Homo sapiens: one gene and its partner. The protein of the gene in region 2 purifies or fractionates together with the protein of the main gene of each other region. This does not show direct contact. Each region holds a gene or a part of one and is shown on either strand. Other genes may lie near its edges. The genes, in order: CEP152 and CROCC.

What was found.
Region 1: the proteins of CROCC (region 2) and CEP152 purify together in Homo sapiens (co-immunoprecipitation; 2 studies listed by IntAct). This does not show direct contact.

The regions. Positions count from the first base shown.
Region 1 is NC_000015.10:48,761,675-48,777,403, forward strand, and holds part of CEP152 (centrosomal protein of 152 kDa), read right to left. Parts: intron 11,018-15,729; coding exon 10,813-11,017; intron 9,616-10,812; exon of another isoform or gene 9,546-9,615; intron 8,499-9,545; exon of another isoform or gene 7,611-8,498; intron 7,408-7,610; coding exon 7,282-7,407; intron 6,655-7,281; coding exon 6,545-6,654; intron 5,790-6,544; coding exon 5,661-5,789; intron 5,519-5,660; coding exon 5,386-5,518; intron 2,722-5,385; coding exon of another isoform or gene 2,497-2,721; exon of another isoform or gene 2,211-2,496; intron 999-2,210; coding exon 717-998; intron 1-716. UniProt on the Homo sapiens protein: Necessary for centrosome duplication; the function also seems to involve CEP63, CDK5RAP2 and WDR62 through a stepwise assembled complex at the centrosome that recruits CDK2 required for centriole duplication.
Region 2 is NC_000001.11:16,944,792-16,954,231, forward strand, and holds part of CROCC (rootletin), read left to right. Parts: intron 1-670; coding exon 671-815; intron 816-1,467; coding exon 1,468-1,614; intron 1,615-1,969; coding exon 1,970-2,200; intron 2,201-3,539; coding exon 3,540-3,733; intron 3,734-4,007; coding exon 4,008-4,135; intron 4,136-6,161; coding exon 6,162-6,331; intron 6,332-8,510; coding exon 8,511-8,690; intron 8,691-9,431; coding exon 9,432-9,440. UniProt on the Homo sapiens protein: Major structural component of the ciliary rootlet, a cytoskeletal-like structure in ciliated cells which originates from the basal body at the proximal end of a cilium and extends proximally toward the cell nucleus.

The DNA of each region.
Region 1 (15,729 bases), on a different chromosome or scaffold from region 2:
AAACCACACAAACAGAAGCTCTTTAGAGTCCCCAATTTTTAAAATTGTAAAGGAGTCCTGGGACCAAAATTTTGAGAATCACTGTAATAGGTAAGAAAGATATAACAGATAACTCATCTTTATTCTGTCACAATAGGCTGTACTTTTCTCAGTATGACATTTCTTTCAAATCAAGTAACTGTGTCAGTTAAAAGCTAGTTTTGTGAGTGCCTCAAAGGAAAGGTATTGGCACCACTTTTGGAAAGCTGATGGGAATGATAGATAAAGTTCCATTTAAGGGCACGCCTGCAGATCCAACCACATCAAGTCTCCACACAATGTTGTTAAATACCTTATGTGCTTAGGTTTACTTATCTATAACCACCTTAGTGGAATATTTTCTAAAAAATTAGATATGAAAGATTAATAATTAAACTGTGATTCATTCAGATGTAAAAAGCACCCTCTTTAACCTTGGGCATCTTAATGCTTAGACTAATCTCAAAGGAGCAAATATTTTGTAAACCGAAAGAATATACAGAAAAACCGAGGGGTGGCAGCTTTATGACAGAAATATTATGAAGAAAAATTTAGGAACATGACAGGTTTTCTATCCTAGAAATGCACAAAATCTTAAAAGTATAAAGTTATGAACGAGTTCAATGATAGCATTGTATGGGTTTTCATTAAGAGACAGGCAGTTCCAATAAATTTACTAGAATAAATCTGCCTTTTACCTGTTTGGTAATATTTTCACAATGTTTGAGTTCCAATTCAATTTCGAGTTTCTTCATAGCCCCCTTGATGGCTATGTCCTTCTCTTGTTCTAAGTTTTGCTGGATTGTGCACTTCTGCTCTTCTATCATAATTGCCATCTCTTTCTTGGAAATAACATCACTGGTGGTTACTTGGTCAGTTTGGCTGCCACAATCTAAGGTCTTCTTTTTCATTGCCTTTATAGTTTGATCCAGCTTAGACTGCCACTCCTTTTCAAGCTGTTGAATGAGTTTTTCTTTGATCTGTTTTCAGAAGAAAAATCATACGAGAAGAACAATTTTCAAATAAGTAAAAACTAGAATTAAAAGCTAGCCAGAAAAGCAACCACAGCTGTGTTTGAAAACCATCTAGATATTGTTGTAGTAATTATAAAAGGTTTAGAAATTTAGTCAATTAAAATACACTCTCAAGTAAAACTTGAAAGTTACTCTTTGAACTTAACTATATGACAAAAATCACATGAAAGATTTAAGTATGTTGTGTAAAGTCAGGATATCTTGCTCTTAATATCCAACCTTCTGGAATCTTTCCTATTGCCACTACAAAGATGGCAGGATTTAAAAAAAAAAAAATTACAGTTAATGTGTTTTGCCATCAACACCATGCTCTCCACAAAGGACCGAGTAAATCTAATTAACGAACCAAAACCTGAACAATCTAAAAAATAGTTTTACTCACTTGAACACATTAGAATCTTATTTGTTATAGTGTTAAATTTTACTAAGTAGACTACATTCAAAAGGGAGGCAGTATTATTGGAAGAACATCTTAATGATTTTTCCACTTTAACAGTACAGTGAGGTGGAGCTAAACACAGTCTTAGGCAAAACTATGAAACTGCACAATTTGGTTTTCCCTTTTTCTGTTCACCACCTGGGTATCTGAAGTTCTCCTACTGTTTCCCTGGCTACCAGATCAATAGCAATTAATAGCCATTTTGTAGATAAAAGAATCTAGTTGAGGCCAGGTGCAGTGGCTCATGCCTGTAATCCCAGCACTTTGGGAGGCTGAGGCAGGCGGATCACCTGAGGTCAGGAGTTCAAGACCAGCCTGGCCAACATGGCGAAACCCCATCTCTACTAAAAATATAAAAATTAGCTGGGTGTGGTGGCGCTTGCCTGTAATCCCAGCTACTCAGGAGGCTGAGGCAGGAGAATCACTTGAACTCGGGAGGTGGAGGTTGCAGTGAGCCGAGATCACACCACTGCACTCCAGCCTGGAGACAGAGCGAGGCTCCGTCTCAAAAAAGGAAAAAAAAAATTTAGTTTAAATAAGCTTGAGAATTCTTTTTTGTTTTCATTTCTAAATAAGCTTTTAGGATCATACTTTGTTCCCTAACTTGCTAGGGAACTATTAGCATTTCCTAATCTCATTTGCTATTTAAGTAATAGAGGTAACAAATTATGGGCTTCTGAGACTGCCCATTACTTCTTTGTTTCTAATCCATGATATGGCTTATTTGTTAGTTATAAATATTAGTCTAGAGTTATAATCATTCCACAATATGAAATCAGATCATGGTTTCATTTTGAGGAATCAAAGAAGTGCCCAAAAAACTTGTTATATCCTGAGTTGGGTCGAAAAGTCAAGAGGTGGCTAAATTCCTAAAAATAAAACTGGTGTGGTAACTGCTAATAGCTCAATTCCAAAAGGTAAAATGGATGATTATGTAAGTGCCTGGCAAATAAAAATTACGTATCTGGTTCAAGAAGAATTGTCTTCTAAAGTTAGTACCACATTTTAAAAATGTGGTGACCAGAAAGAAATTTTAATCCACACCTCTTGCTCTTCCTTATCCCAATGTGCTTTGGCTAAGATCACTTCACTTTCAACTTGCTGTTTAATATCAGTTTCTTGATCTTTCAGCCACTTGCTCTTTTCCATCATAAGTGTATCTTGGTACTTTTTTTCAAGTTCCACCTGCAGTTTGCTTACATATTCTTCTCTTTCCTCCAATAGCTGTCTCTTTAAACAAAATTCAAATAAACATCTCTCTACAACACTAACAGTCTCCAAGTTAAAACATGAACTTGTTGTGCGTGTCTTGGATAGCAAAAAAAATCCCTCTAACTTCTAAAATGCACCTACCTAACTCATATTACAATTGTATAAATAAGCCTTAATGTGCATAGAAATGGCATCAGGAATGGGAATGTTGACCATCTTTGCCTTGTCTGCAAATTCATAGGCTTCACTGATTACTACCCAACCTGAAGGATTCCGTGTATATGATTTTTTCCCCCTTTCTCTCAATGAGCCAGGTTAACATGTGAGGAAAGTTCTGTGTGCTACTAAAAGCTTTAAAACTTGGAATTGAGCTCCTATTTAACCTGCAACCTGACTCAGCAAGTGTTTCAGAAAACAATGCATGAAACATAAAAAAACACCCTTTAACTCTTATTGTTACCTGACTCATATATTCTGTATCCAGGTTAAATTCCCTACCTAAAGCTAAGCTGCAGTAAAATGGCTTATGTCCTGCATGGAAGAGCTACCCCAGAAGTGCCCTCACTTGTTCTAGAGTTTAGTAACATTCTCCCATGTATGTGAAACATTTCCTTTAAAAAAAAAAAAAAGGTGTATTTTTGCCTACCTCTGAAAAATGTGAGAAGATTAGACAGTCTCCTAAATATAAAGATGTTTCAGTTCTGACTGGCTTATACTACTAAGGGCTTATATAATTCTATAGTAAAAAACTAATGAATTCCCAGAGAGGGAAGAAATTAAACTTCTAATGCTTTAAGTACACTGGCCCTTTAAGTGAGGGGTGGGTTTGGAGGAGGAGTGTAACCACAAAAAGATAGCAAAAGGGAGCGTTTTAGGGTGATAAAACTGTTCTGTATCCTGACAAAACTATAAACGTGTTAAAGGTTTATAGAACTATACGCCCAGTGGTGGGAGGAAGTCAATTTTACTGTATAACAATTAAAATTTTTTTTTAATTATACTTTAAGTTTTGGGATACACGTGAAAAATTTAACCTCTAAGTTTGGTTTTTTTTTGAAGGATCAAATAGCAGTTTAACTTTTCTTCTTGGACTTGTGTACAAACACTCATGAGCCAAAATATCAGTCAATAGCAGATACTAATTGTAACTGACCCATTATATGAGATCATATTTTATAGTCAAATTGATTCTATTAAAAGTATCAGAAAATATTCCTGGAATGACCTCTTTGAGAAAATTCCTCTTATGTTCTTGCCAATTTTTTTTTTTTTTTTTTTTTTTTTTTTTTTTTGAGAGACGGAGTTTCGCTCTGTCGCCCAGGCTGGAGTGCAGTGGCGCAATCTCGACTCACTGCAAGCTCCGCCTCCCGGGTTCACGCCATTCTCCTGCCTCAGCCTCCCGTGTAGCTGGGACTACAGGCGCGCACAACCATGCCCGGCTAATTTTTGTATTTTTAGTAGAGACGGGGTTTCACCGTGTTAGCCAGGATGGTCTCGATCTCCTGACCTCGTGATCCGCCCGTCTCGGCCTCCCAAAGTGCTGGGATTACAGGCGTGAGCCACTGTGCCCGGCCGCCAATTTTTATACATATAAAAGAATCACACTAGTGATTTCCCTATTTTAATTTTTAAAACATTACTGAAAGCTAAGTCCTCAATTTCAAGGTAATATAAGATCCTTTCTCACTTTTATACTGCCATCCCTACCTAAAACAGCTCCCTTTAGAAGTTCTTTTTCCACTAGATGATATGTATACATGGCACATTTTTCACCATATTAATCTATTCAACAATAATCAAGATATTGAATGAACTGAATTCCTCGCCTGCTCTTTACTATTCTTTTTAAGTGTGTGGTAGTAATAGCTTGCTTTAACATAACTTATTCAAAAACCTCTGTATAGAACATTTATTTAAGCATTTAAAAATATTTTCTAATCTTGAGGCAGATAGCTTTCAAACTGTGGTTTGCCGCTGGTCCAAAGTGTGAAGGACAGTCAGGCCTGTTAAGGCACTGGGCCAGGACAGGGAAGAAAAGAGGAGGTGTGACTGTTTACATGTGATTTTACTCCTGGACACTCACCAAGAGTGACTCAGAAGAATCAGGCAGAGTTGGAGAATCTACTCTAGCCCCTCCAGCTTCCCTGAAGGAGGTCATACGAAGATGCTGACCTTGCTGTCCATATCCTCCATATCATCACTTTCCCTATCACGAGACCAACATTCAAATTCCTACTCTTCTCCCCAGAAGAATAAAATGACAATGAGGTAGTGAGAAAGAAATGGATCCGAGAAAAAGGGCTCTGAACGAATGCTCCGTGCAGCGCTCACAGGACTACATAGGGTTTCCTGAACAGTCAACACCGAAAATGAGGATCTGTGATTTTCAGATTTAAAGTGACACTGATCCTTTTTTTTTTTTTGCCCTTTAGAATAAATCTGCAAGAAAAAAAAAATCACTTTCTCCTATCTATATGCCATTGTACATTAAGGTTTTAATAATCATTTCAGTAATTACTGTATTTTATTTGTGAGCTATATGAGTGTGATACAGCCAAAAGTAAAGAGAACATATGAATACCTTCTCCATTCACTTCTCTAGAACAAATGTATTCGTTTAAATGATAATACTGAGGCTTGAAGAGTGAAAGGATGTCGATACAACATAAACTTGTACTGTACCTTCTCCTGAGTCTGTTGCTCCTTTTCAGTGGTCTTCCTGAGAGTCAATTCTAGATTATCCTTCTCTCTGCACACTTCTAGGTAACATTCCTGCACAGCAGTCACCTCCTTATTCAACTTATCCAACTCAGACCTTGGATACACAAAACCAGCAACTAAATGATTTAACCACAAAAAAATACAAGAGCTGCATAACAAACAATTTTCCTCTAAATTATGGAATAGGGGAATGTAGTCTCTACAGCTTAAAAGGCAGCTAAACTCTTTATTCTCACCTCAGTTGCAAATGAGTTCTCTCATAAGCCTCAAAGAGCTGCTGCTTCTCCAAAGCATGCTTTGCTAATAGGCTTTCACGTATTTGAGTTTTCATGGCTTCATGGTGCTGCTGATAAGTCCTTTCACACCTGGAAACAGAGCGGAATCAAAGGCAATGCCCAGTCTCACTACGAACACCAAAATGAATTGGTTTCCTTCCTTCCTCCTCACCTCTTCCCTCTAATGCAAATTATAATTGAGGTCAGATAACTTTTCCCCAACTGAAAGTGGTAATAATTAATTAATAACCAACAATCTTATGAGAATCTTCAAAATTTTCTTTCTTCAAATGTTTCTAGAGAACAATTAGAAACTTGGATGTGAGACTGCCCCAGTCCTTCAAATAGAGATAGTAATCTATGTTGAGGACTTCTGTTTATAAAAAATTAATGGCAATAATTGAGGGTGTGGCTCCAAAATTTCAAGTCATCTATATTAAACACAAATACTAGCAGTCCCCAACTCACAAGTAAGTTATGTTCCAGAAGTCTGTTTCCAAGTTTATGATTTGGTATTTGGAAGACATATTCCCTCTCACAGACTTTTTTCTTTATAAAGAATAGTTTCCCAGACGAGTCTTTAAAAAAATATTAACCTATAATATTTCAGTGAACTACAGTTTCAATGATACTATAGAACCCAACCCACTACATAACACTGTTTCTATGGAAAATGTGTTCCAAATTCTAATTTGAGAAGCCAGGGACTCATCTCTGCCAATCCAAGATCTCAACAGGGTAGAAATCACTCAATCATTTTGAATCTTTTTGTCACAGGGAAGGGCAGGGACTTAGAGGGGAAGGGTACCCAGGAGACAGTCGTCAGGCATCTATATAGACCTTACCTATCCACAGCTTCTTGTTTGTCATGGTCAAAATCTTGTACCATTTGTCTCATTTGATTACATAAGTCTTGATTTGTATTTCTCAGTTTTCCTTCAGTTTCTTTAAGTTCCTAGACACAAAAGAATAAACTTAGTACTTACAGAAAATAAACATCATTTTCACTGATTGATTTTGTCTTATTTTTTAATATTTTCTATGCTTTCTCTCTCCCCTATAACAATATTTGACATATTATTTTTACAATTCTGCAAAAGAAAAAGTCTCTTCACGCTTTGATAAGAACATAGATTCATTTATTTGACAAGTAGTTTTCTGACAGGACTAAACGTTTAAATTTTGTATTTACTTTGAAATATATAAAATGAAAATATTTAACCAGAGAAGTATTGGCTAGCTGATGCCTTAAAATAAGTCTCAGAATTCAATAATCTTCAGCAACCATCTAAATAAGCAAAGTTTTACTTCTGGGTCAAGAGCTGGCTAAGGAGGAAAGAATACCTCTGTCAGCCATGCTACCATAGAGAAAGAGAACTGGAACTACACTAACTTACCTTCCAATGAAACTACTAACCAACAGTTCACTAGCAAAGGGAAGTAACTGGAACTCATAATCACCTGCTAATATACTTGTCTACTAACTCACATTGCCTCTTTATTTGCAAAAACTCTATTATATCCTTTGTATTTAATGAGGAAATAAAAATTCTCATAAAATATAAAAAATATTTTTAATCACCTGATTTTGTTGTTGTAAAACTTGAATTTCATTTTTAAGCAGCAGAATATCATCTCTGACAACATCAGAAGTAGAAGACTCAGGCCATAATTGATTCTTTGGTTTTTCTGAGGTATCTGTTTTAGTCTGAATATTAAAAGGTCAAAAGTTTTACAAGTTTTAAAAAATTCTAAGTTTCACTTTGAAATACTTCCATACTTTAAAAAAATTGCAAACAGTACAAATAATCTCCATATAGCTTTTACTCATCTTCCCCCAATATAACTACAGCACAATCATCAAAACTAGTAAATTAACACAGATGCAATACTATCAAGTAATCTACAGACCTTATACAAATGTCTCCAATTTGCCCCAAATGTCTGTTTTCTGGTCCAAGATCAAATCCATGATTCTGAGTGGCATTTAGTTGTCATGTTTCATTAGTCTCCTCCAATCTAGGACAGCTCTTCAGTCTTTCAAACCCATGATGTTTTCTAAGAATACTAACCCGTTATTTTGTGGGATGTTCCTCAATTTGGAGTTTTTAGGTTTATTAAAATCAGGTTATGCATCTTTGGCATGCATGTCAAGAACTGATATGTGCTCTTTGCAGGAGACACATGATATCACTATGTCTCACCACTGGTAATAATCAATTGAAGGTGGGATCTGTCATCTCCATTGTAAACTTACTATTTTTTGTTTTATAATAAATGATAAGTATCTTATAGGATACTTTGAGACAATACAAATATCCTATTTCTCATCATATGTTCTCCTACTAAGATCAAGCATTTATTCTATTTCTGTATGTATTCATTTATGTCAGCATTCACTCACGGACATATATTTTATTCAATACATACAATTTTTAAGACTCATGATAGACTTTGGCGAATTGCCTTCCAGAAATGTCATCCAAATGTATACTGTCAGGTAGTACATGGGTCTGCCCATCTCTCTTTGCCTCCAATGGCAGTGATTATCTTTAAATAATTATCTTTGATGGGAAAAGAATATCTAACAATTGCTTTCATTTGTATTTCTTGTGTCACCACCAAAGTGGAACCTCTTATATACCTTCATTGTTCATTTGTTTTTCCACCTTCCCAGATTTATCTGTTCATTTAACTTTGCATATTTTCCTCTGAGAGTTTTCCTTATCTACTTTTCTTTTTATTCATTGATGGGGGTTACAAAGATTTTAAAAATATATCTACTCCGTTTCACTTGTTGTGTACCTGGACTCTGAGCTCTTTGCCACAACACAGTGGCTCATCCTTGTAATCCGAGCACTTTGGGAGGTGGAGGTGGGCAGATCACTTGAGTCCACAGCTGAAGTAACTTTGAGAAAAATTGGAGTTTAGATGTACACTACCGAGAATTCACTATGGCAATAGAGTAGCTGGACAAAAAGAATACTCAAAGATGAGATAGTTATTCCTTTGATCTATTGATCAACCAGACTACAGAGGAAAATGGGAAGGCTAAAAAACAGTACAATGCATGACCACTATCTACTGCTACACATGATAAAGTGTATCTGTATAGCAAATGCCATTAGCAAGTTTAATACAGAACAAAGAAAGCACCAAGATATCTGAGCTAAGGTTCAGACTCAAAATCAGGTTTCTAGTATCCTAAATCCTAGAGCACTCCCACCAAAATGCTTAAACTAATAAACTCTAATGTCTTAATGCAAATTGAGAAACAAGCTTTCATTCCCATCCTTTTAAAGAAATGTAGGGCAACAATGAAAACAGCTTGATTTAAAGATGTTAAATGTGCAGGGGGCAGGGCGGGGAGGAGTCTCTCTCATTTGCTGTTAATATTAAAATCTATGTTTTAGTCATCAAATGTAGTTACTCAGAAGAGGGAATCAGGCTGGAAAAGATTTTGATAGCAAAAACACTGTTTTTCCAAAATATAAAAATTAACCACAATCAAAATTCCACAATAATTAGCACAGAATATTATACATACTTTAGCAGAACTGTTCTAATGAACACAACTCCTAGTTTAAATAGGAGATAAAACAGTACTAAAGAAGGAAGTAAACAATTATCTCCACCCAGGAGGAAAAGGAGTATACTACCCACATTCCTTTTCCCTCTTCTTTTGCTTTTCTTAGTTATTAGGTGTTTTATATATTATTTTCTATTGGGAGTATAGATGGCTGATGATTTGTGAAATATGGAAGGGTAAAAAAAAGGATCTATAAAGGAGAGCAGCCCTAAAGATCTCTGTGATAGCATGATCTTACAGAAATATCTTTGACTTACTTATTAGTCATGTGTTTAGTTTCAATTTGTCTGAAATTGGCTCTGTAAATTCAAAAGTGTCACAAAGTGCTCCAGCTTCATTTTCCGAACTGAAGAATACAGAGGTGGATTTCAATGACTGACAAAACCAGATTTTGTGTACTTTCCCATAGTACCACGACCACTATATAATATCTGTACCATCATCACTATATAATTAATGTCCTCATATAGAATGACTTTTGTTGTAAGAACATGGGCCAGGAAAATCTCATAGAAAATACTACAGGATTTCTATGGAGGATTTATTTTAACTAGATTTTAGAGCACTATTGGTAAAAGCCAATCTTAAAGAAATGCAGATTCCTTGTTACAGAGAATACTTCCTTGTATTTATGGTAAAGGAATTTTACCTAATTGGTATCTCATTTACTAGGTGCCAAGAGTAACCAGAAAAAACATACAGATGCTTTTCAACTTACAATGGGTTTATCACCTAATAAAATCATTATAAGTTGAAAATATCATTAAGTCAAAAATGCATTTAATGCATCTAACCTATTAAAACCATAGCTTAGCCTGGCCTACCTTAAATGTGCTCAGAACACTTATAATAGCCAACAGTTATGCAAAGTCATCTAATGCAAAGCTTCATTTATAATAAACTGTTGAATATCTCATGAAATTTATTGAACACTGTACTGAAAGTAAAAAACAGAACTGTTTTACAGGTACTTGAAATATGGTTTCTACTGAATGCACATAACTTTTCCACCACTGTAAAGTCTAAAAATTGTAAGTCAAACCATCCTAAGTCAGGGACTGTCAGTATCCCTTTAAAAATGGCATTTCCTTCTTTAAACTTTATTTCTAAAAATGTCAAATAAACTCCTGAAAGCCAAAGGTTTATTAATTTAAAAACATGTAAAAGGGCTGGATGTGGTTAGTCACACCTGTAATCCAACACCTTGAGAGATTGAGGTGGGAGGATTGCTTGAGCCCAGGAGTTTGAGACCAGCCTGGGCAACATTGTGGGAACCTGTCTCTACAAAAAATTTAAAAATTAGCCAGGCATAGTGGCGTGCGCCTGTGGTCCCAGCTACTCAGGAGGCTGAGGTGGGAGCATCGCTTTAGCCTGGGAGGTTGAGGCTACAGGGAGCCATGTTTCCACCACTGCCCTCCAGCCTGGAAGACAGAGTGACGCCCTGTCTCAAAAAAAAAAAAGTGTAAAAGTTTTCTTTATTGAGCCTTTTAAAAATGGTTTTTTAACTCTATAGGCTTTACATACCTCAACCTCAATGCTTTTTTCATCCTTCTTCACTTGGTGGAGATCTTCAATTTTCTTATGACAGTCTTTGAGGTCATTTTGTAACTGAGACACCAGATGACGCTTCATTGAGTTGCTACCCAGCAAACGCTGTACTTCTGCCTTTAACTTCAGAATGAACTCATCTTTTGAAAGCTCTTCATTTGGGTCTTCTTCTTGTACAATGCTAATGGAGAAATTGTGATTTTTAACATTAAATCAAGTAATAAATCAGACATGGTTATTCCCTAAAAGCACTGACCACAGTGGTGAACATGTTTTGTCACCTATACAATTATATACTAGTATTTCAAAACAATTTTAAATGTTGTCATACACAAGGATTATCACCTTTGCCATGTCTCTATATACAGAAATACGTTTATTCACAGGAAGAGCCTTCTCAAGCTTAGTCCTGCTGCTCACTGTAAGTAGCTTAGAAATGTGAACTTTGACATAATTTACATTTGTGTTATTGGAAAACTGCATGCTGTATATACATGCCCTTTATGACTCTAACAGAAACAACATAAATATTAAGGAAGAAAAGAATACTAAACACTAGCCATCCTAACCAACAATTTCTGTTATTTTTTTCAACTTACTAAAACACAAGTCTGGGTGAATATCTGAGTAACTAGAAAAACACAAAAATAAAACCATGCTAATTTAAACCCAATTTTAGTTTCAATAAATTTAAAGATTGAGAGATTATCTGCTTCCTTGCCGTAATGAATTAACAAGACTAACCTTTATCTTCCTCCTTAAAAAACTAGCAAACCAAATAAAGCAAATAAAATAATAGTTTTCAATCACTAGACAACAGGCAGCACAGGCCAGGGATTCCTGAGAAAAGGAAAGCAAACAAGGTGAGCTCTAAGATTACCCCAGCTTTCTGCCTGGAGAGTGTCCAGGCCATAGCACAGGGAGGTGAAACCCAAACAGAGCCCAGTAATCTCACTGAGTTTCAGAGAAAGAATTCAGAATTTGGGGAGTCCAGAGTGGCTAGAATATGAAGGGAAGAAATACTGGGGAAAAAGAAGCTGCACAGAAAAAGAGCTCTGGAGATCTGTTCTGTATGAGTGGCTAGGGAAAAAAACATAGGAAATGAATAAGGCTGGGAATATGTTATGTTTCAATGAGCCATAATGCAAAGACTTCCTAATTTAAAGGGCATCAAATAATACCTTAGTAGTGGGGCAAAATTAGCCCCAGATTAAAGCCTTTTCTAAACCTGATGTAGTAAAGCCTATAAAGAAAGCCTTGAAAGGATCAAACTGATTCCAAGTAACTTGTGTGTCACAGAAAAAGTACAACAGTATTTTTAAAAATACAGTAATATCTGGCATCCAAAACAAAATTCAAAATGTCTAGCATTCAATCAAAATTTATCAGGCATAGAAAGAAGTAGGAAAAAAATATGAACCATACCAGGAGAAAAACCAATCAATAGAAACTAACCCATCAATGACACAGACAATAGAATTAATATATTTCATATGTTCTAGAAGGTTAAGGAAGATATGAATATGTGGAGGAAAATGGAAGATACAGAAAAGACTCAAATTAAACTTATAGAAAAAATTATAATATCTGAAATGTAAAATATACTGGATGGGGTTAATAGCATATTTAAAACTGCAGAAGAAAAGATCAGTGAACACATAGATATAGAAATAAAACTATATAATTAAAAACAAAGATAAAAAAGACTAAAACAGAAATACACAGAACATATTACATTTTCCAACATGTGTAACTGAACTCCCAGAAGAGGAGAGGGATGGAAAACATATTTGAAAAAATAATGGCCAAATTTTTCCTAATTTGATGAAAATGAAAACCCCACAAAACCCAGAAGTTTGGTGAATCTCAAGCAGAATAAACACAAAGAAAACCAGCATACATCACACCAATGTCAGATTGCTGAAACCCAGTGATAAAAAGAGAGTGTAGGAAGACTCCCGGAGAGAAAAGAACCAGAGAAAGGAATCCTGAATTCTGTGTATAAATTTGTACAAGCCTCAGTCTAAGCCCTGAACTATGCATGTACAGGGCAACCCTCAAACCAGCATATCAAAGATTTTAAAAACTTAACTGAAATTTAAACCACACATTCAAGTCTCACAATGACTAAACCCGAAGGGATGCATACACAGGTTGGATTCAAAGCAATGTGGCAAAGGCTTGGAGAACCAAACAGATTTAAAACACTCATACAAATTCACAATGTCTAGTATATAATCTAAAATTACTTGACATGCAACTAACCAGAAAAATGTGGCCAAATCTTAAAAGACAATCAACAAATGATCCAAATGCTGGAACTGTCACTAAAAGAGTTTTATAAGTTTAAAGTAGCTATTATATCTCTGCTTTATGAAGTAAAGAAAAAGATACTTGAAGTGAATGAAAAAAAACAGGAATTCTTAACAGAGAAAGAAAAGTGATACAAGAACAAAATAGAAATGTTATTAAGTAAACAAAAGTTAAAATAAAAACACACAAAACCTTCACTAGATAGGCTCAATAGAGTATAGAGGACAAGAAAAAAAGGAGTGAACTTGAAAATAGTCCAGTAGCAATTATGCAAAATAAAAAGGGAAAAACTATAGAAAAAAATGAACAGAGCCTCAAGAAACTGTAGTATAATATCAAAAAATCTAACATACATGTAACTGGAGACCCAAAAGGAGAGAACAAAGACACAGAGACAGAAAAGGTATTTAAGGAAATTAATGGCTGACATTTTCACAAATTTGGTAAAAGACATAATAAATTTATATATTCAAGAAGCTCAGAGAACCCAAAATGAGATAAACTAAAGAAAAACACACTTAAACATATCATAATCAAAGTACCAAAAACTAAATATAAAGAAAAAAATTCTTAAAGCAGCAAAAGAAAAACCTATACATTACTGACAGAAACACTAATTCAAATAACAATGAATTTCTTCACAGAAACCATTGAGTCCAGAGAGAGTGGACCAACATAGCTTTAATGTGCTGAAATAGAAGAACAATTGGTCAGGAATTGTATAATAAACAAATATAAGGATATTTTCATAAAAGGAAACAGACTCTGTCAGCAGCAGACATGCTTGAGAAGAAATGGTAAAGAAAATTCACAGAAGATCATATTATACGATTCTATTTATATGAAATGCACAGAGCTGTCAAATCCATAGAGACAGGAAGTAGATTAGTAGATTAGTTGTCTGGAGCTGTGGAGGCAGGAAGAGGTAATGGGAATGACTGGTAATAGGCATGGAGTTTCTTTGGGGGGATGTTGAAATGCTGTAAAATTAGGTGTGGTGATGACTGCACAGTTCTGTGAATATACGGAAAACCACTGAGCTGTATTCTTTAAGTGGGTGTCTTTTATGGTATGTGAAATAATATCTCAATAAAACAGTAAAAAAAAAAAGAAAAGAAAACCCAAACACCTAACGTATGAGTTTCCTTCATATGAAGGCAAATCTAATAATCTGTAGTGCTTAGGTGTGAATAACTGGGTATTAAAAAGCTAAGGGAAAAAAAAAACAGAAAATGATTGCCCTAATAGATAAGATAGTAGTTAGCCTCAAGGTTACAATAAGAAAGAATATGGGCAGCTCGTGGCAATATTTACTTCTTGACCTGGGTGGTGGTCCTACGAATATTCACTTTCAAATAATTCATTAAGCTATATATTTATGTTCCATGTTTTTTATATGGTATATTTCATAATTTGAAAGATTTAAAAAGCAAAATAAAACTATAGAAAGTACTAGAGAAATACCTTATTTTTAAATATCAAGAAACCATAAATGAAAACAGTGACAGATCTAACTATATAAAAATTATAAACAGGAAAAGTGATAACTCTCAATACTGGCTAGGTTACCAAGAAATAGGGACAGCCTCAGGACGTGGGTAATAATGTAAACTTTAGGGCTGTTTAGTAATATGCATCAAAGCCCTCAAATAAGTGCACACCCTCTAGCAAGACAATTATTCTACTTCTTTAGGAAGTAATCAAAGATGTGAATAAAGACTTGACTACAAGGATGCTTATAACAATGATATTGCATTATTTATAAGTAAAACTTTTAAACAGCGATTTAGTAGCTAAACTGGTTCATTCATCTACATAGTCACTAAAAGTAATCTATAAAAATATTCACTAATATTCAAAGATTTCAGAATATACTAGTAAAATGACATTATAAAGAAATATTATCAATATTATTTTATCTTTTAGAAACATACAAAACAGGTGATGTGGAAGTTTTATACTGAAATATAAAAGTGGTTTTCTTCATGGGAAGTAAGGTGAGATTATTGGTGACTTCTATTTTCTTCTTTTTTAGTCTGTATTTTCTAATTTTTTCATAATGGAGGATTAAGTTACTTTTGAAAAGAAATAAACAGTTGACAGTATCTGCCCTTAAGATGAGGTGATGAAAGTCTCTGTGGTCTTTCTCCACAAAACCCATGAGAAAAACGTAATCATAAGAAAAACGTCATATTCCAATAGACAAGCTTCCTACAAAATACTTGGCCAGTATTCCTTACGACTGTCAAGGTCATCAAAAACAAGTAAAGTCAAGAGAAATCTAAGGAAACATGACCCCTAAATGTAATGGGGTAGCCTGGTTGGGATCCCAGAACAGAAAAAGTATGTTAAATAAAAACCAAGGGCATGTAAATAAACCCTGGATGTTAATTAATAATAATATACCAATATTGGCTCATTAATTGTAACAAATGTACCATACTAACATAAGGTATTAGTAGGGAAAAATGGGTGCAGCATATCGTATATAGGAACTCTGCGTAATACAAATTTTTCTGTAAATTAAAAACTGTTCCAAAAATATATTTTTAAAAAACCTTTATTAGAAACAAAAATACT
Region 2 (9,440 bases):
TTAACCTCTTCACCACTGCGCTGCTTACCTCTCAGGGACGTGATCGATGATGATGTTTAGTAGACTGTGGTGGAGCATGTTATTCTTGTTTCTGAAGGTCCTTGGGGAGATGTGTCAGGCACTATTTTAAGCACATGTGAAGTTTGTATCCTTAAAACAGGCCGGGCGCAGTGGCTCACGCCTGTAATCCCAGCACTTTGAGAGGCCAAGGCAGGCAGATCGCCTGAGGTCAGGAGTTCCAGACCAGCCTGACCAACGTGGAGAAATCCCGTCTCTACTAAAACTACAAAAATTAGTCAGGCGTGGTGGTGAGCACCTGTAATCCCAGCTACTCGGGAGGCTGAGGCAGGAGAATTGCTTGAACCTGGGAGGCAGAGGTTGCAGTCAGCCAGGATCGCACCACTGTACTCCAGCCTGTGTGACAGAGCAAGACTGTGTCTCAAAAAAACAAACAATGTCACGAGGTAAGTGTTACCTCATTTTGCAGATGTGAAAACGGAGGCCCAGGGTCATGGAGCTAAGCGGTAGTGGGCTTGGTTGCCCTGTGGCTCAGGCTGTTTCTCTCCAAACTCCTGCCTCAGGCCTGGTCCCCAGCCCAGCATCTCGCTGGCTACAGGAGGTTCGGGGCAGGAAAGTGACATGGGCCACCCACCCACCCTTTGTCCCACAGCCATAGACAACTAGAGCAGCTGGAAGGGAAGCGCTCAGTCCTGGCCAAGGAGCTGGTGGAGGTGAGGGAGGCGCTGAGCCGCGCCACACTGCAACGGGACATGCTGCAGGCCGAGAAGGCCGAGGTGGCCGAGGCGCTGACCAAGGTGGGTCCCTGTCTGCTGCACAACCACAAACCTACCTCTGACCCCCAGCCCCAAGCCTTGTCACTCTGGCACAGACTGGTCCCAGTGTCAGGCAGACCTCTGAGCCTGGTCACAGACTGACCCCTTCCTTCTGGATACAGGCTGATCTTTGTCACAGGCCACAGACCTCTGGACCTCTGGTCCCAGCCATAAGTGGACTGACCTCTCTTTATGGCCGTATCCCTGCTCTTCTGGATGCTCCTGGGGGCAATGCCTATAGCTCAGGGTCATCCAGTGCCTGAGACTCAGCTCCTGGGGTCTGAGAGTTGTGGCCACAGCGCAGAGGGTCCTTGGCAGGGGGGCCTGCGCTGTCCGCTGCAGCCTGGGCTCTGAGCAGTGCTATCCCTAGACCCTACTCAGGGGATCCTCTGAACTCTGGCCCTGCCCTGCAGCTTGAGCTATTTTTGCACAGCTCTGTGGTGTGTGGCTTTTAAATGGCTCATAAGCAGCAGGCTTTCTGCGGTGATTTTTTTTTTTCCATCTCACACTGTGTCCCCTCCTTGTCTCCCCTACCCTGTCTCTGAGGGTCCATCTCTCTGGGTCTCTTCTTGGGCCTCCTCACCTCCTCCCGACCTTTCTGCCTTTCCTCATTTCTCGGGGCCTGACCCTGCAGGCTGAGGCTGGCCGCGTGGAGCTCGAGCTCTCCATGACCAAGCTGAGGGCAGAGGAGGCCTCCCTGCAGGACTCCCTGTCCAAGCTGAGCGCCCTCAACGAGAGCCTTGCTCAGGACAAGTTGGATCTGAACCGCCTTGTCGCCCAGGTACGCTGTGCACCTGCGGGCCCACCTGCCTTGCCCACCCATCCTCCCCACTCAGTGAGGCACCCCGGGCCCAGCCCTGTACCTGTCTTGGCCCCTGCCTCCCTTTCTGTCCCTGGTTCTCTGTCTGTCTCTGGTTCTCTGTCTGTCTGTCTATCCCCTCTAGGCGTCAAAGCACAGAAGTTCCATGGGCCCTCCTCATCTCCCCCTCCCCAGTGTCCCATACACCCAAGGGCACTGTCCCTCATTCCCTGGGAGCCTCCCCTGGGCTATTGTTGCTGGTGGGTGGGTGGAGGAGGCGTCCTGGTCCTGGGAGGGACGCCCTGCTCACGAGGCCCCACTCCTACCTGGCCTCCAGCTGGAGGAAGAAAAGTCCGCCCTGCAGGGCCGGCAACGGCAGGCAGAGCAGGAGGCCACAGTGGCGCGGGAAGAGCAGGAACGGCTAGAGGAGCTGCGGTTGGAGCAGGAGGTGGCGCGGCAGGGCCTGGAGGGCTCCCTACGAGTGGCGGAGCAGGCCCAGGAGGCATTGGAGCAGCAGCTCCCCACGCTGCGCCATGAGCGCAGCCAGCTGCAGGAGCAGCTAGCGCAGGTGGGCAAAGCTGTGTGTGGGGGTGGTGTGGAGAGCATGTGGGGCAGGCCGGGCTCCCAGCCCCCTGCATCCAGTCCTGGGTTAAGTCACAGGCACTGGAGCCTGCTTCTGGGTTAAATCCAGCCCCACTTCTGCTAGCTGGGGACCTTGGACAAGCTGCCCAATCTCCCATACCTCAGTTGCCCCATCTATAACATGGGGCCAGCCAGGCGCAGTGGCTCACGCCTATAATCCCAGCACTTTGGGAGGCCGAGGCGGGTGGATCACCTGAGGTCCGGAGATCAAGACCATCCTGGCTAACACGGTGAAACCCTATCTCTACAAAAAATTAGCTGGGCGTGGTGGCACGCGCCTGTAGTCCCAGCTACTTGGGAGGCTGAGGCAGGAGAATCGCTTGAACCCAGGAGGCAGAGGTTGCAGTGAGCCAAGATCATGCCACTGCACTCCAGCCTGGGCAACAGAGCAAGACTCCGTCTCAATAATAATAATAATAATAATAATAATAATAATGATACAGATTAATAATAGGTGGAGACTTTTTAGAATTGGAATCTTAGACTTTTGGGAACATCACATCTGGAAGAGACCTTAATGTTTCAGGGATCCAGGGACCTTCATGCAAGGTCTATCCTGGAGCGCCTAGGTTTCTGGGAGGGGCCTCTAGAGGATGGGGTAGGGGGTGCAGGAAGCAGGGTGCAGGTCTCCACCTTGAGGCCTGCCGAGCAGCTGCACTTGGGTCTGGTTTATATATTCAGCTTCTCTGCAAGTTTAGAGTAATACAAGGGTTCTGTTACTCCCAGAGCTGAGTGAGGGCCCTCATTTTTTTTGTTTCATTTTGTTTTGTTTTTGTTGTTGTTTTTTTTTCCAGACAGAGTCTTGCTCTGTTGCCCAGGCTGGAATGCAGTGGCACGATCTGGGCTCACTGCAACCTCCGCCTCCAGGGTTTAAGCTGTTCGCCTGCCTCAGCGTCCCAAGTAGCAGGGACTACAGGCGTGCACCACCACGCCCGGCTAATTTTTGTATTTTTAGTAGAGACAGGGTTTCACCCCGTTGGCCAGGCTGGTCTTGAACTCCTGACCTCAAGTGATCCACCTGCCAAAGTGCTGGGATTATAGGCACGCACCACCGTACCTGGCTGGGCCCTGGTTTTTGTACACACGTGCATTGCAGATCTAGAGAAGGTCATGACTTGCCCAAGTACATGTAGCACATCAGGGCAGACCCTGGGCTCAAACCCAGGCCTTCTGCCAGGACTGGGTTAGGCCCAGAGTTGGGGTGCTGCACGATGAACAAGCTGGGGGACGCTGGGAGTGCTACTCAGTCTCTGGGTGGGGGCCAGCTCTCCCGGCAGCTGAGCGGGCGGGAGCAGGAGCTGGAGCAGGCCCGGCGGGAGGCCCAGCGGCAAGTGGAGGCGCTGGAGCGAGCGGCCCGTGAGAAGGAGGCGCTAGCCAAGGAGCACGCTGGCCTGGCTGTGCAGCTGGTGGCTGCGGAGCGTGAAGGCAGGACCCTGTCAGAGGAGGCCACACGCCTGCGGTAAGGCCTTGGGCTCTGCCCAACCCGCCCTGGGGGGTCCTCCTGGGGCCACACCATGACCAGCCACACGCAGGCACGGGCCCCCAGGGGCAGTTACTAAGGAGTCTGGCTTGCCGACTCGTCCTAGCTGTGGCTCAGGCTTCCCCAGGGAGTGTGGGCCTGGCCAGGCAGGTAGATTGGCACTTGGCCCATGCCTGGCCACTCCCTGAGATCCACAGTTTCCTGGGGCCAGGGAGGCTGAGTCCCAGGGCCTCAGGGACTGTATGTGCTGCAGCTTGGAGAAGGAAGCCCTGGAGGGCAGCCTGTTTGAGGTGCAACGGCAGCTGGCCCAGCTTGAGGCCCGCCGGGAGCAGCTGGAAGCCGAGGGGCAGGCCCTGCTGCTGGCCAAGGAGACCCTGACTGGTACGAGGGGCTGGGGACTTGGGGGGAACACCAGGTTCCAGCCCAGACTGCAGCCTCCCAAGGTCTGGGGTCTCACAGAAGTTGGGAGCACTGGAGTAGGAGTCTGGCTGGCCTGGGTTCCAGTCCTGTGCCACCACTTAGATCTCACCTTCCCTTGAGCAAGCCCCTTTCCTCTCTGGGCTGCAGATTCCTCAGCTGATGATTGGAGGTGGCAATGCCCACCTTCTAAGCCTGTTGCCAGGATGACGTGGGAAAAGCGTGTAAGGCCGTGGCACGGTGCCTGGCTGAGTCAACAGTAACTGCCGTTCATCGGTCATCAGGCCTGTTAGTCTGAGTTCTCTGTGCTTTTCAGATGACTCTCTTGGCCCCAGAATCCCAGCCCCACTTCCCTGCACCGTTCCCATCCAGTCTCTGAACTCAGGGCTTCTTTCTGCTCACCTAACATTAACTAAGCACCTACTTGGGTCATGGAAATTAATTTTCCTGTCCATGTACACCTGAGCCAGACAGAACCAGGAAGGGAAATGCTGGTGGGTTTCCAACCCGGGAGATGGTTTTTAGATGGTAGCTATACCATTTCCATTCCCTGTAGTCATTTCCATTAATATAAATAGTTAACGTTTGACGGGTATGTTCATGTCAGTCATTAAAGGAGATGCTTTATGTGTAGCTGTGCAGCTGTGGGAAGTTGCTGCTGATCTCTGAGCCTCCATTTCATCATCTGTTAAATGGGGATGAGGATAAACTACATAGGCATGTTATGAAGACAAAATGAGGTTATGTCTAAAATACTTAGCTGGGCGCTTGACCCATAGTAAGTGCTCAGTCAGGAATAGGGTTGTTTTTTGTTTGTTTGTTTTGAGACAGAGTTTCACTCTTGTTGCCCAGGCGGGAGTGCAATGGCACTATCTCGGCTCACCTCAACCTCTGCCTTCTGGGTTCAAGCGATTCTCCTGCCTCAGCCTCCCAAGTAGCTGGGATTACAGGCATGCATCACCATGCCTGGCTAATTTTATATTTTTAGTAGAGACGGGGTTTCGCCATGTTGGTCAAGCTGGTCTCGAACTCTTGACCTCAGGTGATCCACCCGCTTTGGCCTCCCAAACTGCTGGGATTACAGGCATGAGCCATCACGCCCAGCCTGTTTGTTTTTTGAGACAGAGTCTCACTCTTGTTGCCCAGGCTGGAGTGCAATGGTGCGATCTCGGCTCACTGCAACTTCTGCCTCCTGCATTCAAGCGATTCTCCTGCCTCAGCCTCCCAAGTAGCTGGGACTACATATGCCCGCCACCATGCCTGGCTAATTTTTGTATTTTTGGTATAGACAGGGTTTCGCTGTGTTGGCCAGGCTGGTCTCAAACTCCTGACCTAAGGTGACCTACCTGACCCAGCCTCCCAGAGTGCTGGATTACAGGCATGAGCCACTGCGCCCGGCCTATTTGTTTTTTTGAGGCAGAGTCTCACTCTTGTTGCCCAGGCTGGAGTGCAGTGGTGCAATCTCAGCTCACTGCAACTTCTGCCTCTTGGGTTCAAGCGATTCTCCTGCCTCAGCCTCCCTGAGGCTGGGACTACATACGCCTGCCACCACGCCTGGCTAATTGTTGTATTTTTAGTAGAGACAGGGTTTCACCATGTTGGCCAGGTTGGTCTTGAACTCCTGACCTAAGGTGATCCACCTGCCCCAGCTTCCCAAAGTGCTGGGATTACAGGCGTGAGCCAAGGCACCTGACCTAGGGTTGTTATATGTTTGACATCCGTCCCATTTGGGAGGCCTTCTCATCAGTCATTTTATGCCTTTAATGCCATTCTAGGTAGGCAGGAAAGGGGTCAGGGCCAGTGGGCCCATGTAGCATATAGGGAAACTGAGGCCCAGAGAGGGCAAGCCACTTCAAGAGGACCCAAACTAGATGCCAGGCAGGCCCTCTGCCTCTGGGATTTTGCCCATGTGGCTCACCTGGCCTAAGTCTGCTGGCCCAAGGAAAAGTTTCAACCCAACCCTGCCCTTTCCCCCATTCCTCTCGTGCAGGGGAGTTGGCGGGCCTGCGGCAGCAAATAATAGCTACACAGGAGAAAGCCAGTCTAGACAAGGAGCTGATGGCCCAGAAGCTGGTGCAGGCTGAGCGGGAGGCCCAGGCCTCTCTGCGGGAGCAGCGGGCAGCTCACGAGGAGGACTTACAGCGACTCCAGCGTGAAAAGGTTCAGGCAGCTGGGGAGGGGTGGGCAGGACTCTGAGCCAGTGTTTCATCATCGTTCTTGCTCTGCCTCGGTCTCTACATCTGTGAAATGGGACTTCCTCTCTGTTGTGGAGGTCCTGGGGACAGCTAGGAGGACTGGGGGGATGGGGAGGTTGTGGTTCTTATTAGACATGCAGATTCCCAGGTCCCAAATCTGGTCCAGCCCTGGTAATCCTGATGCAGAGGGTCCACAACCACATTTGGGAAATACTGACCTAATGTACAGCAGGAAAGCACTTTCATTTGCTAAGAAGTACTGTTTGCATATGAAGAGCCACTCAGACCTCAGCATATAGAAAGGCAAGGGGCCAGGGAAGTTACTAGAACACTGACTCTGGGTTTGAATTGCCTGGGTTTGAATCGAATCTTGGTCGCTTACTGGTGATGCTACCCAAGGTGTCCGTGCCTTCATTTCCCCACCTGTAGAAATAGGGATAGGATAGTGAAAGGTATTGAAGATGAGCTGAGACCATCTGCATAGAGGGCTTAGCATAGTGACTGGTACTTAGCAAATGCTCCATAAGTTATGATTGCTGGCACTGACATGCTCTCCAGAGTGGCCCTCGGGACAGGGGCCCTCAGCCACCAAATCCTAGACAGGGCTGCCTCTGACAGAGGTGCAGGCTATGACTGCATGGCTCCAGGGCATGCCACTCACCCTGCAGTACCCCTGGCCTTGGGTGGTTGTTACCACGCTTCTCCAGGAGGTGGCGGTAAAGCTCTTTTTTTTTTTTCTTTTTTCTTTTTTTGAGACGGAGTCTTGCTCTGTTGCTTAGGCTGGATTGCAGTGGCGCAATCTCGGCTCACTGCAACCTCCACTTTCTGGGTTCAAGCGATTCTCCTGCCTCTGCTTCCTGAGTAGCTGGGATTATAGGCGCGCCACCACGCCTGGCTAATTTTTGCATTTTTAGTAGAGACGGGATTTCACCATATTGGTCAGGGTGTCTCGAACTTTTGACCTCGTAATCTGCCCACCTCGGCCTCCCAAAGTGCTGGGATTACAGGCATGAGCTACGGTGAAGATCTTAAAGAAGGGGCGGTTTGGCCGGTCGTGCTGACTCATGCCTGTAATCCAGCACTTTGGGAGGCCGAGGTGGGCAGATCACCAGGTCGGAAGATCGAGACCATCCTGGCTAACACAGTGAAACCCCATCTCTACTAAAAATCACAAAAAATTAGCTGGGCGTGGTGGCACGCGCCTGTAGTCCCAGATACTTGGGAGGGTAAGGCAGAAGAATCGCTTCAACCTGGGAGGCAGAGGTTGCAGTGAGCCAAAATCTCGCCACTGCACTCCAGCCTGGGTGACAGAGCAAGACTCCGTCTAAAAAAAAAAAAAAAGAAGTGGCAGCTCTGTCTGCTTCTCACAGAGTTGCTAGGGGCAAGTGCTGAGGCAGGCACCTGCCCTCAGGCTCCCCAGGTGGGCTGCTATTTGCCTGTGGGCTCTGCCTGCCCGCCTGTCCAGTCCCCAGGGATCTGAACTCCTGTGACCTCCCCCTTGCTCTTCTTGCCCTTTGCATTGCCTGGCTTGGCCTCATTAATGTCCCCAAATCTGTGTTCTCTCCAGCTCCTCTGGCAACCCCTGACCCCCTTCATTCCTCACAGCCAGTCCTAACTCCCCTCCATCCCAACCCCAATCCCTCTTCCACAGCTGTCGGAACATCCCCTAAGCTAAAAATCAGATTGCTCCTTGTCACCTTGGCTCGAGTCCTCTCTCCCACTCCCCTCACTGTCCTTAGAATCCCCATGGCCCACACGGCCTGTCCTGGCCCCACCCCTGCCTGGGGCTCTGGCCCTGTGACTCACCATGTCCCGTTCCCCTCTGCACCCTGCATCCTCTAGGCCTTTCCAGGGGCTGTGTTCTTGGCCTGGGGTGGTCTTTTCTCTCCTTACCTGGCTGACAGTTACTTGTCCCTCCGCAGGGGACCATGTTCGGACCCCCAGGCCAGCCCACTGCTGCTCCTTGGCACTTTCACGGCCCTGGCGTGTCCCCGTCATAGCCCTTATCACTCCCTTGTATTTACCTGGTCACCCTCCATCTCTGAGGGTATGGGGGCCAGATGGCTCTTGCTGCCCTGATGTTTTGGGGGGTCTGCCTGGGCCCCCTCCTGGTGTGTCACAGGCATCCGGTCCTGGCCCCCTAGGAGGCAGCATGGCGGGAGCTGGAGGCCGAGCGGGCCCAGCTGCAGAGTCAGCTGCAGCGTGAGCAGGAGGAGCTGCTGGCCCGGCTGGAGGCTGAGAAGGAAGAGCTGAGTGAGGAGATTGCTGCCCTGCAGCAGGAGCGCGACGAGGGCCTCCTCCTAGCAGAGAGTGAGAAGCAGCAGGTTCGTGAGCCCTGGCATGGCCTCTGCTGCTCTCTGAGCTGCTCCAGTTCTGGGGCCGGGCCCTGCTCTGCCACTTGGCAGCTAGGAGCCCTGGGGCAGGCCACTGCCCTCTTGGGGGCCTCAGTTTCCTTACCTGCAGGAGGGGAGGATTAGAAGGGGGTTCGTGAGGCTTTGCTGTGCTCCATGCCTGGCACACAGTGAGCACTTACTGAGTGACAGTGACAGTCGTGACACCAGGAAAGCTGTTCCATATTCTCCCATGCCTCGTCCCACCCCACGCTGGGCATGGATCCTCATGGCTGCCTTCTGAGCAGTCCCCACGATGCCCACAGGCATCAGCTGACGTGTCCCCCCAAATAACAAATCCCTAACTTTCCTATAATGTAACGGAGACAGGGCAGACTGTGCCCATCTCCTCTCCTCACCAGCTGTGTACCTGGGCGAGTCACTTTACCTCCTTGAGCCTCAGTTTCCTCATCTGTAAGATGGGTAGAAAGAAAGACTCTGCAGTCAGGGTGCTGTGGCGGGTTAGTGAGCTCTATGAGTGGTATCCACGTCCGGGATTCTTGTGACTGCCGTTGTGCCCTTTTCCAGGGCTGCATGTCTGCCCTGGGTCCACCTGCAGTGGCACACTCAGGCCTCTAAGCCCCCAGTGGGCACATTTCCTAGGCAGCAAGAAGCCTGAGCATGCCCCCAGGACCAGCCCATCCCCCAAGCCCTTTGTCCCCTGCCTCTGCCCAGGCCTTGTCT